2 separate regions of the Homo sapiens genome follow, and region 2 is linked to region 1. Evidence: fine-mapped expression QTL. Tissue or cell type: whole blood. Region 1 holds a variant in brackets; the other region holds the start of a gene. All regions are shown on one strand. Distances are from middle to middle.

Region 1 (8,101 bases):
GTTTATTTTGAAAAACATGGGTATAGAATTATTTAAATATTATTTTATTTATTTAAATATTTATTAAATATATTTATTTATTTAAATATTATTTTTACATTAAATATTATTTTAAATATTTTGGAAATACTGGTATTTTTGAATAGATGCTGTTTCTACAAAGCTGTGTGATGGGTATTATAACTGTTATATACACATACATATAATTTTGTTTTCCTTTTTAAGAGAGGATTCTTTTCATCCTAAATCTTTTACCTTTCAATCTTTGTATCTATTATTACACGTGCTGCTGAAGGGAGCATGGATTTTATCTATGATACTTAGTTAACATATATATTACATTTATAGCTATGTAGTAGTTCCCCTAAATTCTTGTAAAAATAAATTTTTATTTGATATTTCATATATGTTTGAAATGTGAGAATTCAGATGTAATTTTTTACCTTGTTTTGGCATGTTTGTATATTACTTTAAAGAGAATGTGTGTTCTAAAGGAGGACATGAGCTGTGTGTTTTCAAGAGAACAATAGAGTGGGTCTCTTGGGGAAACATAATAAAAATGAACTTTTCTCACCTTCACAGCAATTGTGATCATATTGGTCTGGATTGATTATTTGCTGCCCAGTGATATTTTTCCTTAATGGGGTTGTGGTTATTTGAACATATTTATTAGCTCTGGAAGATAATCCTGTGCTGTTTTTTATGTAGAAAAAAACATAAGGCTGGGTGCAGTGCTCACACCTACAATCCCTGCGGTTTTGGAGGTCATGGTGGGAGGATCACCTGAGGCCAGGAGTTTGAGGCCAGCCTCAGCAACATAGCATCTACATCTATTTTTAATTTTTATTTTTTAAAGAAAAACAATAGAAGAGAAGGCTGATCCCAAGCTACAGGGTTTTTTTGTTTGTTTGTTTGTTTTGGAGACAGAGTCTTGCTCTGTCTCCCAGGCTGGAGTGCAGTGGCACAACCTCGGCTCCCTGCAACTTTCACCTCTGGGTTCAAACAAATTCTCCTGCCTCAGCCTCCCAAGTAGCTGGGACTACAGGCACCCGTCTGTACGTCCGACTAACTTTTGTAAAAATAGTAGAGACAAGGTTTCACCATGTTGGCCAGGCTGGTCTCGAACTCCTGACTTCAAGTGATCCACCTACCTCGGCCTCCCAAAGTGCTGGGATTACAGGCATGAGCTACTGCGCCCAGATGCCAAGCTAGAGTTTTAAGGCAGGAAATGAGAGAAAGATATTGAGAGAGGAAAACCAGGTGGTAAGAAAACTCTAAAGGTGGCCGGGCGTGGTGGCTCACGCCCATGATCCCAGCAGGAGTTTGAGACCAGCCTGGCCAACATGGTGAAACCCTGTCTCTACTAAAAATACAAAAATTAGGCAGGCGTGGTGGTGCACGCCTATAATCCCAGCTATTTGGGAGGCTGAGGCAGGAGAATCACTAGCAGAGATTGTGTCTCCTCACACCCTCTCAAAAAAAAAAAAAAAAAAAAAGTTCGTTCCTGCAGCAGTTAAAGCTGTGAAAGACAGGCACTCTGACATGCAATTCTTTGTGATTTTTCTTTTTCCTTTTTGGAGTTGGGGTCTTGCGCTGTCACCCAGACTGGGGTGCAGTGGTGTGGTCATAGCTCACTGCGGCCTCAGACTCAAGCTCAAGCGATCTTCTTACCTTGCCTTTCAAATTGCTGGGATTATAAGCATGAGCCACTGCATCTGGCCTGAGACACAATTCTGTTTTTGGTCTTTTTTTTTTTGGGGGGGGGATGGAGTCTCGCTCTGTCACCCAGGCTGGAGTGCGGTGGCGTGATCTTGGCTCAATGCAAGCTCCGCCTCCTGGGTTCACGCCATTCTCCTGCCTCAGCCTCCCAAGTAGCTGGGACTACAGGCGCCCGCCACCATGCCTGGCTAATTTTTTGTATTTTTAGTAGAGACGGGATTTCACTGTCTTAGCCAGGATGGTCTCGATCTCCTGACCTCGTGATCTGCCCGCCTTGGCCTCCCAAAGTGCTAGGATTACAGGTGTGAGCCACCGCGCCCAGCCTATGTGATGCAATTCTGATGTCAACTCCCTGATGTTACCTCAAATGCCACAGGTTAAGGCCACCAGCCCCTACTAGGCTGCCCTCGCTTTAGACACACCTGCAGGCTTGGGTGTCCTCAGACCACATGTACTTCTCACCAACTGGCTGCAAATTTGGAGGTTCCCACCATGCCCTCAAGTTCGATAACTCACTAAAACAATTCACAGAATGCAGAAAAGCATGATACTTTCTTTCTCTTTTTTTTTTTTTTTTTTTTTTCGAGACAGAGTCTTGCTCTGTCGCCCAGGCTGGAGTACAGTGGCCACCATGCTTGGCTAATTTTTGTATTTGTATTAGAGACGGGGTTTCGCCATGTTGGCCAGGCTGGTCTTGAACTCCTGACCTCAGGTGATCCACCCGCCTTGGCATCCCAAAATGCTGGGATTATAGGCATAGCCACCATGCCCGGTTGACTTCTAGAGTTTCAATAACAGAGAAGTGATTCAAGAAGGGAGACATGTTTTGTAGATGGCAGGAGCTTCATGAAAAGAAGCCAATGAAGGGCAGGACGTGTAGCTGTCTACCTACAGGAAACCAGCCAGGAGCCTCCCCACAGGGACTTCAGCACAGATGGCCGGGAAAATCTGCATTCACCTGAGCTCTGGACCTAAGAGAGGACAAGGCCTTGACCATTTCTACAGACTCACAAGATGCAATCTCTGTGGTCCATGCCCGTGGTGTGATCTGGGAAGCAGGGGGCCTTCTAAATGCCAACAACAAGGAAATCAAATGTGCAACAAACAGAAATAACGGCATTGACGTGGGCCATGGAAAGGCCTAAACAGATGACTGCAGTTCACTGCCAAGGTCATCAAAGGGGTGACTCTGAAATAATAAATTTCAGACGCCACGGCCCAAATAGCTGCACGAGGTGGGGAAGTCCTCCACATGCCTCTGCTTCCTTCGGTACCTGTTTATGAAATCAGCCGAGGTACTTCCCTGGGGAATTTCCTTTCTCTTTCTTTCTTTCGAGACGGAGTCTTGCTCTGTCGCCCAGGCTAGAGTGCAGTGGTGCAATCTCAGCTCAATATAACCTCCCCCTCCTGGGTTTTAGCAATTCTCCTGCATCAGACTTCTGAGTAGCTGAGATTACAGGTGCATGCCACCATGCCCAGCTAATATTTGTATTTTTAGTAGAGACAGGGTTTCACCATCTAGGCCAGGCTGGTCTTGAACTCCTGACCTCGTGATCCACCCGTCTTGGCCTCTCAAAGTGCTGGGATTACAGGTGTGAGCCATCACGCCCGGACTTTTTTTTTTATTTTTTGAGACGACGTTTCACTCTTGTTGCCCACGCTGGAGTGCAATGGCACGATCTCAGCTCACTGCCACCTCCTCCTCCCAGGTTCAAGCGATTATCCTGCCTCAGCCTCTCGAGTAGCTGGGATTACAGGCACCCAACACCAAACCCAGCTAACTTATTGTATTTTTAGTAGAGATGGGATGTCACCATGTTGGCCAGGATGGTCTTGAACCCCTGACCT[C/T]TAATGATCCACCTGAATTGGTTTCCCAAAATGTTGGGATTACAGGCACAAGCCACTGCGCCCAGCCCCTCCCACACCTCTTTTGGCCAAGGCAGCACAATTCAGAAGAATCTTGCCAGGGAAGACTGGTAAATGGACGTCAACGTGATGCCTATGGCTCCTGGTGGATTTAGATACCTCCTGGTGCTTATTGATATCTTTACTACCAGTTGCATGGGGGCTTTTCCATGCCAGACTGAAAACGCAGGAGATCAATGATCAACCTTCAACTATTTACTAGCAGAACACTGAGGGGACTGTGCAGTCACCAATACCTCCTATTGCACTTGGATAAACACCTCCCAGGAAATAGAGATGAATAGAAAGGACATAGTCAAACAAGCAGAATGGCTGCATTCCTTCAACCAGAAGGGTCCATTAGTCTGTTTTCACACTGCTATAAAGAACTATGAGAAACTGGGTAATTTATGAAGAAAAGAGGTTTAATTGACTCACAGTTCTGCAGGCTGTACAGGAAGCGTGGCTGGGGAGGCCTCAGGAAACTGACAATCACGGCAGAAGGCGAAGGGGAAGCAGGCACGTCTGGCCATGTTGGAGCAGGAGAGACAGAGAGAGTGAAGTGGGAGGGCTGCACGCTTTTAAACAACCAGATCCCACAAGCGCTCACTCAATATCACGAGAACAGCAAGGGGGAAGTCGGCCCCCATGAGCCAATCACCTCCCACCAGGTCCCTCCCACAACACTGGGAATTACAATTTGACATGAGATTTGGGTGTGGATACAGAGCTGAACCATGTCAAGGGTAGTTCAACCGCTGAGATTGATTGATTGATTGATTGACTGAGATGGAGTCCTGCTCTGTTACCTAGGCTGGAGTGCAGTGGCACAATCTCGGCTCACTGCAACCTCCGCCTCCCGGGTTCAAGCGATTCTCCTGCCTCAGCCTCCCGAGTAGCTGGGACTACAGCACATGCCACCATGCCTAGCTAATTTTTGTATTTTTAGTAGAGACAGGGCTTCACCATGTTTGCCAGGCTGGTCTTGAACTCCTGACCTCGTGATCACCCTGCCTCGGCTTTTCTTTTGCTGGAATTACAGGTGTGAGCCACCGCACCCAGCCAACAACTGAGATTTAGAAGGCAGTCGAGTCCACTATACCGCACCTCACCTGGTTTCTTCCTCTGTTGGGGCCCCTCGTGGCCACTGTTCTGTTACTTTTTGGTCCTATTTATTTAAATGGATGGTGAGCTGTTTGTTCTCCAGGATCCAACACTTCCACCTTCAGCTTGTATTACAACAATACCAGCCTTTCAAGCTACTCCGGGTGACCCCAGAACTCATTTGAACTCAGAAGCCCAGGAGTTTCATTCCTTTCACTTTAGGGGACTCAGTGCCCTGCTCAGCATGAAGTCGAAGCAGAAGCATGACCTCCATCCCTAATCCCTCAAGAATGAGGAGTGGAAGGTGTTGGCAGAAGGGTGGGGGTGAGGTTTGTAGATCTGTAACTGCATCAGACCAAATCTGGTTCAACTTTTTTTTTTTTTTTGACGGAGTTTCACTCTTGTCACCCAGGCTGGAGTGCAATGGTACTAACTCAGCTCACTGCAACCTCCACCTCCTAGGTTCAAGTGATTCTGCTGCCTCAGCCTCCAGATAGCTGGGATTATAAGGGTGCACCACCACACCTGGCTAACATTTATATTTTTAGTAGAGACGGGGTTTTACCATTTTGGCCAGGCTGGTCTTGAAGTCCTGACCTCCACCTGCCTTGGCCTCCCAAAGTGCTGGGATTACAGGCGTGAGTCACTGCACCCGGCTCAGTTCAACTTTTATGTAATGAGGTTGTCAGTTGTTTTTCAATTGCCATGGACCCACAGGTTGAAGGGCATGTACCCTGTGCATGCCCAGGTTAACCAAGCATGCAACCACGGAGTGGAACCTAAGAGCTCGGCCTGAAGAGCTGAGACTGATTTAAGAACTGGACACTCCATGGCAGGAGCCAGGATCCAATCAGATTGAGTTTTGGTGTCATCCCATGGCAGGATCCAGTCAGATCACACCTCCCAGCATTACTTTATTGCAAGATCCAATCAAATCACAACTCATTACCCTATGCTTATAAAACCTGACATAGCCCCCAGCTGGGTAAGGGAGATTTGAGTATTTCTTCCTGTGTTCTTGCTAGCTGACTTACAAAAAAGCTTTAAAAAAAAGGCCACGTGTGGTGGCTCATGCCTGTAATCCCAGCACTTTGGGAGGCTGAGGCAGGCAGATCACTTGAGGTCAGGGGTGCAAGACCAGCCTGGCCAACATGGTGAAACCCTATCTCTACTAAAAATACAAAAATTAGCTGGTCATGGTGACACATACCTATAATCCCAGCTACTTGGGAGACTGAGGCAGGAGAATCACTTGAACCCAGGAGGTAGAGGTTGCAGTGAGCCAAGATCACACCACTGCACTCCAGCCTGGGCAACAGAGTGAGAAGACTCTGTCTAAAAAAAGAACAGTTAAAATTAGCACCAAATGCTTTACGAGTAAAAAAAGTTTTTAGCTGCATATGTTTAAGTAACTTTTTAGATTGTAAAAAATACACATACAAAATGGAAAGGCACAAAGAAGAGAGCAAAAAGTGCATGAGATCTCACATCCAAGGATAACCGCTGAGAACATGAAAGTGCTGACTCTTCCAGCCTTTATACTATACACATTTAGGCCGTTGTTTTGTTTTTATTAAACTGTAATCATATAATACAGATAGTTTTATAATCTGGTTTTTAAACACAACAATTACATAACATTTAGCTGTTTCTTTTGCATTCAGATTCATAAGGGTTCCAGTAACTCATTTATCAGAAAACCAAGAGAAATAGTCTCATTAAAATATAAGTACATAAGGCAGGCATGGTTGCTCACGCCTATAATCCCAGCACTTTGAGAGGCCGAGGTGGGCGGATCACCTGAGGTCAGGAATTCGAGACCAGCCTGGCCAGCCTGGACAACATGGTGAAACCCCGTCTCTGCTAAAAATAAACAAATGAGCCAGGTGTGGTGGTGCGCGCCTGTAATCCCAGCTATTCAGAAGGCTGAGGCAGGTGAATCGCTTAAACTCGGGAGGTGGAGGTTGCAGTGAATCGAGATCGTGCCACTGCACTCCAGCCAGGGCGCCAAAGTGAGACTCCATCTCAAAAAAAGATAAAAATAAAAAATAAAAATAAAATATATATATGTATATATATTTTTCCAGACAGGGTCTTACTCTGTCTCCCAGTCTGAAATACAGTGGTGCAATCATAGCTCACTGCAGCCTCAAGTTTCTGGGCTCAAGTGAATCTCCCACTTCAGCTTCCCAAGTAGCTGGAACTACAGGTGGATGCCACCATGCCCAGTCAATTTTTTTTTTAATTTTTCATAGAAACAGAGTCTCACTATGTTGCCCAGTCCTAATAAACACTATGTGATGAAAAGAAAAAAGTAAATCACCCTAAGTTAAGTCTTTAATGTTAAGTCTTTAACGAGAAATGCAAATAAAGCATTTCTCAATAGATTATGGCAAGAGTATCAACTGAAGAATAAACATCTTTAGTAAATCTTTTGCTCATGTGCATTAACCAATACTCTTGAAAACCAGGATTAATTTACTGTACCTTCTTAATATTCCTTTGAAATTCCTTATGGCGCACAGGTAGTGTAGAAAATAACTGCTTCACGCTGACTGTCATCCCTCTGGGGTGGGGGTAGGGGGTTTTCTGGATGATTTTCCCATAGTGATCAAACACCAGTCGAGTCCCAACCTTCGCCGATGCGTGGCAGGTAGAAATGGTGACATCGCTGTGAGAGAATACCAGGCGTGGTGTGTTCAGTGAGAGACCCGTGATGTTGAGCATTGACTACGCTTTTCTTCACTTGCTTTTCTCTCAAAACTTTCTTAAAAAGCTGATGATCCCTCTGAGATAACCAAGATCTAAACGGTTGAGGAGTCATCATAAAATCTAAGGTTTGGCATCTAAAAGACAGTGAGACAGAGAGCACTAAACATGCTTTGTTTTGATAAAAGCTTTGATTTCATTTTTCAGGTTGAATTGCAAAACCATAAATGATCTCAAGGTTTATTTATTCACAAATAGAGATTTGTTTTGTTATTACTCTTCAAATAAAATTGTTTTAAAGAATTTTTTAAAGAATTAAAAAATTTTTTAAAATTTTTAAAGAATCCAAAAGATATTATAATTAAAATGTATATGTAGGGCAGGGTGCGGTGGCTCATGCCTGTAATTCCAGCACTTTGGGAGGCCGAGGAGTGCAGATCACTTAAGGCCTGGAGTTCCAGACCAGCCTGGGCAACACGGCAAAACCCCATCTCTACTAAAAATACAAAAATTAGCCAGGAGTGGTGGTGCACGCTATAGTCCCAGCTCTTTAGGAGGTTGAGGCACGAGAATCACTTGAACCTGGGAGGCAGAGATTGCAGTGAGCTGAGACTGTGCCACTGCACTCCAGCCTGGGTGACAGAGTGAGACTCTGTCTAAAAAA
Region 2 (8,101 bases), 54 kb before region 1:
CAGTTGCTGTACAGATCAGTAGTTTGTTCCTTTTTATGGCTAAATATTACAATATTTTATGATTATTTCTTGGTGTTATTTTTTTTTTCCTTTTTTTGAGATGGAGTTTCACTCTGTCGCCCAGGCTGGCATGCAATGGTGCAATCTAGGCTCACTGCAACCTCCACCTCCCACGTTCCAGCAATTCTCCTGCCTCAGCCTCCTAAGTAGCTGGGACTACAGTTGCCCACCACCACGCCCAGCTAATTTCTGTATTTTTAGTAGAGACGGGGTTTTGTATTTTTAGTAGAGACTCTGCATTTTGTGCTGTCCGTAGAAGGCAGACCTCACACCAGCCACAACTAGCAGTATCTATTCTTCCTCAAACGCTTTTTTCTTTTCTTTTCTCTCTTTTTTTTTTTTTTTGAGATGGAGTTTCGCTCTTGTTGCCCAGGCTGGAGTGCAATGGCACGATCTTGGCTCACTGCAACCTCCATCTCTTGGGTTCAAGAGATTCTCCTGCCTCAGCCTCCTGAGTAGCTGGGATTACAAGCATGCACCTGGCTAATTTTGTATTTTTAGTAGAGACAGAGTTTCTCCATGTTGGTCAGGCTGGTCTCAAACTCCCGACCTCAGGTGATCCCCTGCCTCGGCCTTCCAAAGTGCTGGGATTACAGGCCTGAGCCACCACGCCCAGCCTCTTCAAATGCTTTTTTCTAAAGAAAGTACACGCACACTGCCCAAACATGGGGGCTCAGCCAGCCTTCTGGCTCACTGACCTTCTCAGCCATGGCATCCATGTAGTCCTGTCGCTGATATTCTCTCCGGCGCAGATGTCTGTACACGTGGAACTCTCCACTGCCGGCCCCAGCACTTGAACCTGTAGCCAGAACAGTCCACAGTTCTAGATGAAATTCAGTTACCAACACAGGTCACCCTTAATCGAGGGTGACTAAAGAAACAAAAAGTGGAAGTCGTGGAAGGGACCATGCCTTCCTTTCTCCCCACTGTATCCAGAACTGGCCCAGTACCTGGCATATTGTAGATGTCGTGAATTATTTGTTCTATGAATGTTGAATGTAAAGTCACTAAAAATCCCACTCAAATGCAGTATCAGGAGGGGCAGACTGTGGTTAAGTGACTTTCTCACCTCCTCCATGATTTCACATTTGACACGCTAAATTTCTAGTGAGTTGAAAAGACATCCATGATACATTAAATGAAATAAAGGTGCTTACAAAGTTGTATATGTAGAACAATCATATTTTTGTAAAAGTGTTTTTTCTTCAGCTTTTTTCTTTTTTTTGAGACAGGGCCTTGCTCTGTCACCCAAGATGGAGGGCAGTGGCGCAATCACAGCTCATTGGAGCCTCAACCTCCTGGGCTCAAGCCATCCTCCTGCCTCAGCTTCCCAAGTAGCTGGGACCAGAGGCATGCACCACTATGCCTGGCTAATTTTTACATTTTTAGTAGAGATGAGGTCTTCCTGTGTTGCCCAGGCTGGTCTCAAACTCGAGCAATTCTCCTGTCTCGGCCTCCCAAAGTGCTGGGATTACAGGCACGAGCCACCGTGCCTGGCCTATGTTGCTTTTTAAAGACATAATGCTATTGCACATTAAACTACAGTAGAGTATAAAGAAAACTTGTATGTGCAGTGGGAAACTAAAGAATTTACATGATTCCCTTTATTGCGACATTCACTTTAACTAGGTTGCCTGGAACTAAACCCGCACCATCTCCATGGTAAGCCTGTAGATATGTTAATTTATGATCCAACAAAATAATAAAACTATTTTTATTTACAAAAAAACCACAATGCGTTATTAAGAATAATGCAGGAGATGGCCGGGCACTGTGGTTCACAGCTGTAATCCTAGCATTTTGGGAGGCTGAGGCGGGCGGATCACCTGAGGTCAGGAGTTCAAGACCAGCCTGGCCAACATAGTGAAACCCAGTCTCTACTAAAAATAAAACAATCAGCCAGGCATGGTGGCACGGGCCTGTAGTCCTAGCTACTCAGGAGGCTAAGGCAGGAGAATCGCTTGAACCCGGAAGGCGGAGGTTGCAGTGAGCCGAGATGGTGTCACTGCACTACAGCCTGGGTGACAGAGTGAGACTCTGTCTCCAAAAGAAAAACAAAAACAAAAACAAAAACAAAAAAAACCGCAATACTGCAGGAGAAAATTCTATAGTGCCAAACCATAAGCAACTATAGCCCTTAAGCTAAATTTACCAATGTCAAATGAAAAACAAATAAAAGCAACTATATCCCCGTCATTGTAAAAGCAAAACACGAACATGTGAACACACATTTCCCCTCATCAGAGATTTAACAAATACCAACTACAGGATTTTTATAGCTACCTTTTTTTTTTCTTTTTGAGACAGAATGTCGCTCTGTTGCCCAGGATGGAGTGCAGTGGCGCCATCTCGGCTCACTGCAAGCTCCGCCTCCTGGGTTCACGCCATTCTCCTGCCTCAGCCTCCCAAGTAGCTGGGACTACAGGTGCCTGCCACCACGCCCGGCTAATTTTTTTTGTATTTTTAGTAGAGACGGGGTTTCACCGTGTTAGCCAGGATGGTCTCGATCTCCTGACCTCATGATCCGCCCGCCTCGGCCTCCCAAAGTGCTGGGATTAGAGGCATGAGCCACCACGCCCAGCCTATAGCTACCTTAAAAAATTATATTTACACACACACACACACACACACACACACACAGCCATTACCCATGACATCTCGGACAAATTCTGGGGGAGGTCGAGGTGCCCATTCACTCATTTTCTCTGGAATTGGAACTGCTTTGTCCTGCAACATTTAAACATGAAAGCATTTAAGTATAAACCTGTTGACAAAATTATATATCTCCCTCTCTTTTTTTAGAGACAGGTTCTTGCTCTGTTCCTCAGGCTGGAGTGCAGTGGTGCAATCAGAGCTCACTGCAGCCTTGAACTCCTGGGCTCAAGTGATCCTCCCGGTTCAGTCTCCAGAATAGTTAGGACTCTCAGGCGTACACCACCACACCAGGCAATTTTTTTATTTTTGTAAAGACAGGGACCCACTATGTTGCCCAGGCTGGTCTTGAACTCCTTCCTGGCCTCGGACCATCCTCCCGCCTGGCCTCCCAAAGCGCTGAAATTACAGGCAGGGGCCACAGCACCCAGCCCAAGTTACATCTCTTAAGACCAAAGAATTTTAATTGACTAATGAAGCAGGACTGCTTTGCTACTTGGACACAGAGCTGATTTTGTGTTCTTCCCTCTGTCGTGGCTTTTTTCATCCTATGTACTCTTGGGTATAACACAGTCCACACCTTCCCAGGGCTACGCTTTCCAGAGCAGAACTGAAAAACCTAAGCCATAGTTTCCAGCTAGAAACCGCCAACTTTAACACTACTAGATAAGAAGAGTCAAGCTTTTCTAGTTAAAGGTATAAAGGACGTTCCCGTTCAATTGTTTTTATGATTGAGGGGACCGAGGCCCAGAGGGGGTGTGAGCGGGAGAGGAGTGACCAGCTCCAAACGTCTCGGCCACTGTCTCTCTAACGATCAGTGTTGTTTAGAGTATACCCTTTTGCTAACCCACAAATTCTACCTTTTCAGTCTAACGCTTTTTGTTCACAGAAAGTTAAACCAGAAGGGGTCTTGGAGCACGGGAAGCCGCTCCACCGTGCTTTGATTCAAGCTGGGCTCTCACACAAGGACAGACGGGAAGTTCACTATCTCCGGGACAGCCTCCTTCTCCTCCTCCTCCCCAAAGACTGCTCTTGGAGGGTCGGATACTGAGTTTCTGAGTTTGGAGGCGGGGAAGGTGGACCTGCGGGAACCCTGAAGCGCTGCAGAGGAAGGGGGTGGGCCTCGGACGGGCCGTGGAGCCTGGGCCTCGTCTCACCGGGTTCTTCATGAGCCGCTCCAGCTTGAGCTTCTGCTCCTCCGCCGCATTCTTGGGGATGACGAGCGTCTGCGGCTCTTTCTTGGGCCTCGGTGGTCGCACCGAGGAGGCGGCTGGGCTAGCCATGGCAGCCTTCCAGTTTCACAAGCGAGCGGCGGCGTCGGCGCGCAAGTATGACGACACAGCCGCGCGCCGGCGACGCATACGCAGTCTCCGCAGAGGGGAACGGAGGCGGGGTTGCAAGGCGCAAGCAGCCTGCTGAATATTCATGAGCCTGAGGCTGGCGTGGGTTATTGTGTTCAAAGCTGCGGGGTTTCATTTCCTGTTCCTGAACAACAAATCAGTGCAGCTAGATGCTCACGTCCCTGAAGGGGAGGTGGCCCTCCGTGCCTGAGTAGCCTGGCCCTAGCCGACCTCTCCAGTCCCCGCGGGCGTCTTCGTGCCACCGAGCAGCCCCGCTGATGCTCTCGGCACCTCCTCCCCGTCGGCTCTCCTCGCCTCCCGGCTTTGTCCGGGCACTTCCTTGGATCTGGTGCCCCCTCCTCCATTTCTGACAATCTCCTGTTTACATAAGACAGCGCAAACATGTCACTGAGCTTCCTGAAGACTGGGACATTCCTCCTTTGTCCGCCTTGAATTACTCTATACCTGGCCCCCCGCAAATACACCTCTGCCAATGAATGACCGTCTCGTAGTGTGAGGCACAGTAATAAACCTAAGGAACCATGTCTGCTCATTCTGCTTGCGAGCAGGATTTCACAAAGGCCGTGACTCGGTGACTGAGCGCAGCCCTCTCCAATAACGCCCTGAACAATAAGCTGGGAAGAGCGAGAGAGAACACAGGTTTCCACCTCTCTTGCCTGAACACTGCATTTTTAGAAAAGACAAGTTCAATGATCCTAGCCCCTGCCTCTTCCTGTACATAATCTCTGACGGGATTAATGATTATGCTTCTATAACTTTTTTTTTTTTTTTAGAGACAGGGTCTCGCTTGGTTGCCCAGGCTGGAGTGCAGGGGCTCGATCATAGGTCACTGCTGCCTTGAACTCCCGGGTTCAGGCACTCCTCCCACCTCAGCCTCCTGAGTAGCTGAGACTACAGGCGCATGCCACCACACCCAGTTAATTTTTTATTTTTATTTTTTGCAGAGACAAGGTGTTGCTGTGATGCCCAGGCTGGTCTTGAACTCCTGGGCTCAAGCGATCCTCCTGCCTGGGCCTCCGAAAGTGCTGAAATTATAGGTGTTAAGTCACCATGCCCAGCCAAGCCTCTGTAATCTGTAACTAGATAATACCCTCACACACAGCCTTGATGAAATTTTGCTCTATTGTTAACTTCTGAGCACATTAGATATAACTTTTTTTTTTTTTTTTTGAGACAGAGTCTCACTCTGTCCCCCAGGCTAGAGCTCAGTGATGCAATCTCGGCTGACTGCAGCCTCTGCCTCCCAGGTTCAAGTGATCCTCCTGCTTCAGTCTCCTGAGTAGCTGGGAATACAGGTGCACGCCACCACGCCTGGCTAATTATTGTATTTTTAGTAGAGATGGAGTTTCACCATGTTGGCCAGGCTTGTCTCGAACTCCTGACATCAGGTGATCCACCCGCCTCAGCCTCCCAAAGTGCTGGGATTATAGGCATGAGCCACCACGCCCAGCTTGATATAACTTCTGAGCACATGCAGGGCACCACCAACTGTATATAAATGTTTTTATATAAACTGTATATAAATATAAATATATAAATGTGTGCTGAAACTCTGTTTTGGAGCAGTTTAACAAACTCTGTGAAAGACTTTCCCTGGTTACAGTCCTCAGTAAGATTGCAAAAAACCAACCTTAATTTTTTAAAAGCCTGATTTTTTGTTTAGTTGACATTGAGAAACAGAAAAGGCCCGGCATGGTGGCTCACACGTGTAATCCCAACGTTTTGGGAGGCCGAGATGGGCAGATCACTTGAAGTCAGGAGTTTGAGACCAGCATGGCCAACATGGTGAAACCCCATCTCTATTAAAAATACAAAAATTAGCCAGGTGTGGTGGTGTGTGCCTGTAATCCCAGCTATTCAGGAGGCTGAGACAGGAGAATAGCTTGAAACTGGGAGATGGAGGTTGCTGTGAGCCAAGATCGTGCCACTGCACTCCAGCCTGGGTGACAGAGCAAGACTCTGTGTCTAAAAAAAAGAAAAAGAAAAAGAAAAAAAAATTAGAGAGAGAAAGAGAAAGAGAAAAGCTGTTGCTCACATACATTTGGTGTTACAGACCATAGGCTGTTTGGCTCCCCTTGTAATGAAACTTAACAGGGATCCAAGCAGATTTCCCAGACAAGGCATTTATTTCAGAGCTTGTGCTTGAGTGCAGGGAAGACAATGGAAGCAGAAGTGAAGGGATCCTCCAGCTGACTTGTGGAAGAGCCAGTGGGGAATTTTTTTTTTTTTTGTGAGACAGAGTGTTGCTCTGTCGCCAGGCTGGAGTGCAGTGGTGCGAACTCAGCTCACTGCACCTCCGTTTCCCAGGTTCAAGCAATTCTCCTGCCTCAGCCTCCCGAGTAGCTGGGACTACAGGTGCACGCCACCACGCCCGGCTAATTTTTTGTCTTTTAGTAGAGACAGGGTTTCACCATGTTGGCCAGGATGGTCTCAATCTCCTGACCTCATGGTTCGCCCGCCTCGGCCTCCCAAAGTGCTGGGATTACAGGCATAAGCCACTGCGCCTGGCTGGGAATTTTTTTTATTAGGCAAAGCATGGGAATTGACATCAGGGGTAGGGTATGCAGGCTGGGCTGGGCAAAGCACGTGAGGGTATGCAGGTCGCATATCTGGTTTTGAGGGTATGCAGGTCGCATATCTGGTTGCGATGGTTATCTTAAGTAATGAGTCACCTGGTAGTCTGGCTGGTGGCAACAAGGGTGTCAATCAATTGTTCAGCATTCCTTCCCGAGGTGGGACACTCCGCAAGCTTCATTTGATATTTGGATCTCCTAAGGCCAGTCTCTGGAATTCTTTTTTTTTTTTTTTTTTTTTTGAGACAGTTTCGTTCTTTATTTTCTTTGTATGACTAAAGCCTCGGGGTTAGCAGCTATATTGTCAGCGAGGCAATGGTGTGGGTTTTGTGATCAGTGGGACAAAAGAAGGAAAAAGGGAAAGGATGTGAAGGAGAAGCTCTGTCCAGTTCCTGTTCTGTTTCCCTGGGAGCTGGACAGACATTCACAGCTGGGTCTTGGTGTTCTCTTGTCAAACAAAAGTAATTTCCAGGACACCAACATCACACAAGACCATTCCGTGACCACAAAAACCTGGTGTGGTGGCTCATGCCTGTAATCCCAGCACTTTGGGAGGCCGAGGTGGGCAGATCACCTGAGGTCAGGAGTTTGAGACCAGCCTGGCCAACATGGTGAAACCCCGTCTCTACTAGAAATACAAAAAATAGCCAGGCGTGGTGGTGCACACCTGTAATCCCAGCTACTCGGGAGGCTGAGGCTGGAGAATTGCTTGAACCTGGGAGGCAGAGGTTGCAGTGAGCTAAGATTACGCCTTTGCACTCCAGCCTGGGCGACAGAGCAAGACTCTGTCTCAAAATAAATAAATAAATAAAAATAAAAATAAAAGAAACATTTGCTGGAGGGACATGGGCTCCTAGGGACAGGGTCGCCCTCCCACTGAGTCCCCAAGAGGATGAACAGGTGGACAAGTGGATGGTACCTGGAGGGTGAAGTGTTTGTTCTCCAAAGGTCATTCCTGGCTGCCCAATAGTGGGTGGTTTTCTAGGAGCTCAGGGTGGAATTAAGGGTCCTTAGTGGCCCAGGTCTGTCACTGGAACCTGGGGAGGGCTTGGCCTGGCTGGGGCCATGCACACAAACTCACCCAGGATCACACACATTAGCAACCAGTACCTCACTTTTCTCCAAACACTCCACAGAACGAAGGTTTTTGTCTACAAAACAAAGCATCTTTTCCTCCTTGGAGAACTCCCATACAGGCTTCTCAACTTGGCCAAAATGCTACCTCCTCCAAGAAGCCTTCTCAGATTGCCTCTCCCACCCCTCACTTCCAGGAAGTGAATTGCTCCCTTCTTGGTGCTCTCCCAGCTCTGAATCCCAATAACTGGTGAAGTAGTTACCACTATGTCCTCACCATCTGTGTCCCCATGGGCTTGGCAGTGTGGTGGGCTGGGCCAGAATCCCAGCATCTAACCCTGGCATGGTGTAGAGTGGGTACTTCCAGGATGCTTGGAGAAT

The links. PIP is the estimated chance that this variant, and not a neighbour inherited with it, causes the effect.
Region 2: it holds the start of PRKRIP1, and the variant in region 1 is fine-mapped to the expression of PRKRIP1 in whole blood (TOPMed, PIP above 0.99).

What each region holds. Positions count from the first base shown.
Region 1 is chr7:102,338,230-102,346,330 of GRCh38, reverse strand. SPDYE6 (speedy/RINGO cell cycle regulator family member E6) reads left to right here. Exons shown (of 8, transcript NM_001146210.4): 8 at 1-585. It also overlaps the pseudogene PMS2P12. Among named protein-coding and RNA genes, the nearest start is that of SPDYE6, 14 kb to the left of the region's middle. The variant C/T (reference allele first, on the strand shown) is at 3,568.
Region 2 is chr7:102,392,306-102,400,406 of GRCh38, reverse strand. PRKRIP1 (PRKR interacting protein 1) reads right to left here and starts at 4,044. Exons shown (of 6, transcript NM_024653.4): 1 at 3,870-4,044; 2 at 2,709-2,787; 3 at 759-859. The coding sequence starts at 3,995. LOC100630923 (LOC100289561-PRKRIP1 readthrough) reads right to left here. Exons shown (of 9, transcript NR_038967.1): 5 at 2,709-2,787; 6 at 759-859. RefSeq lists enhancers at 3,526-4,067, 3,849-4,088 and a silencer at 4,109-4,188.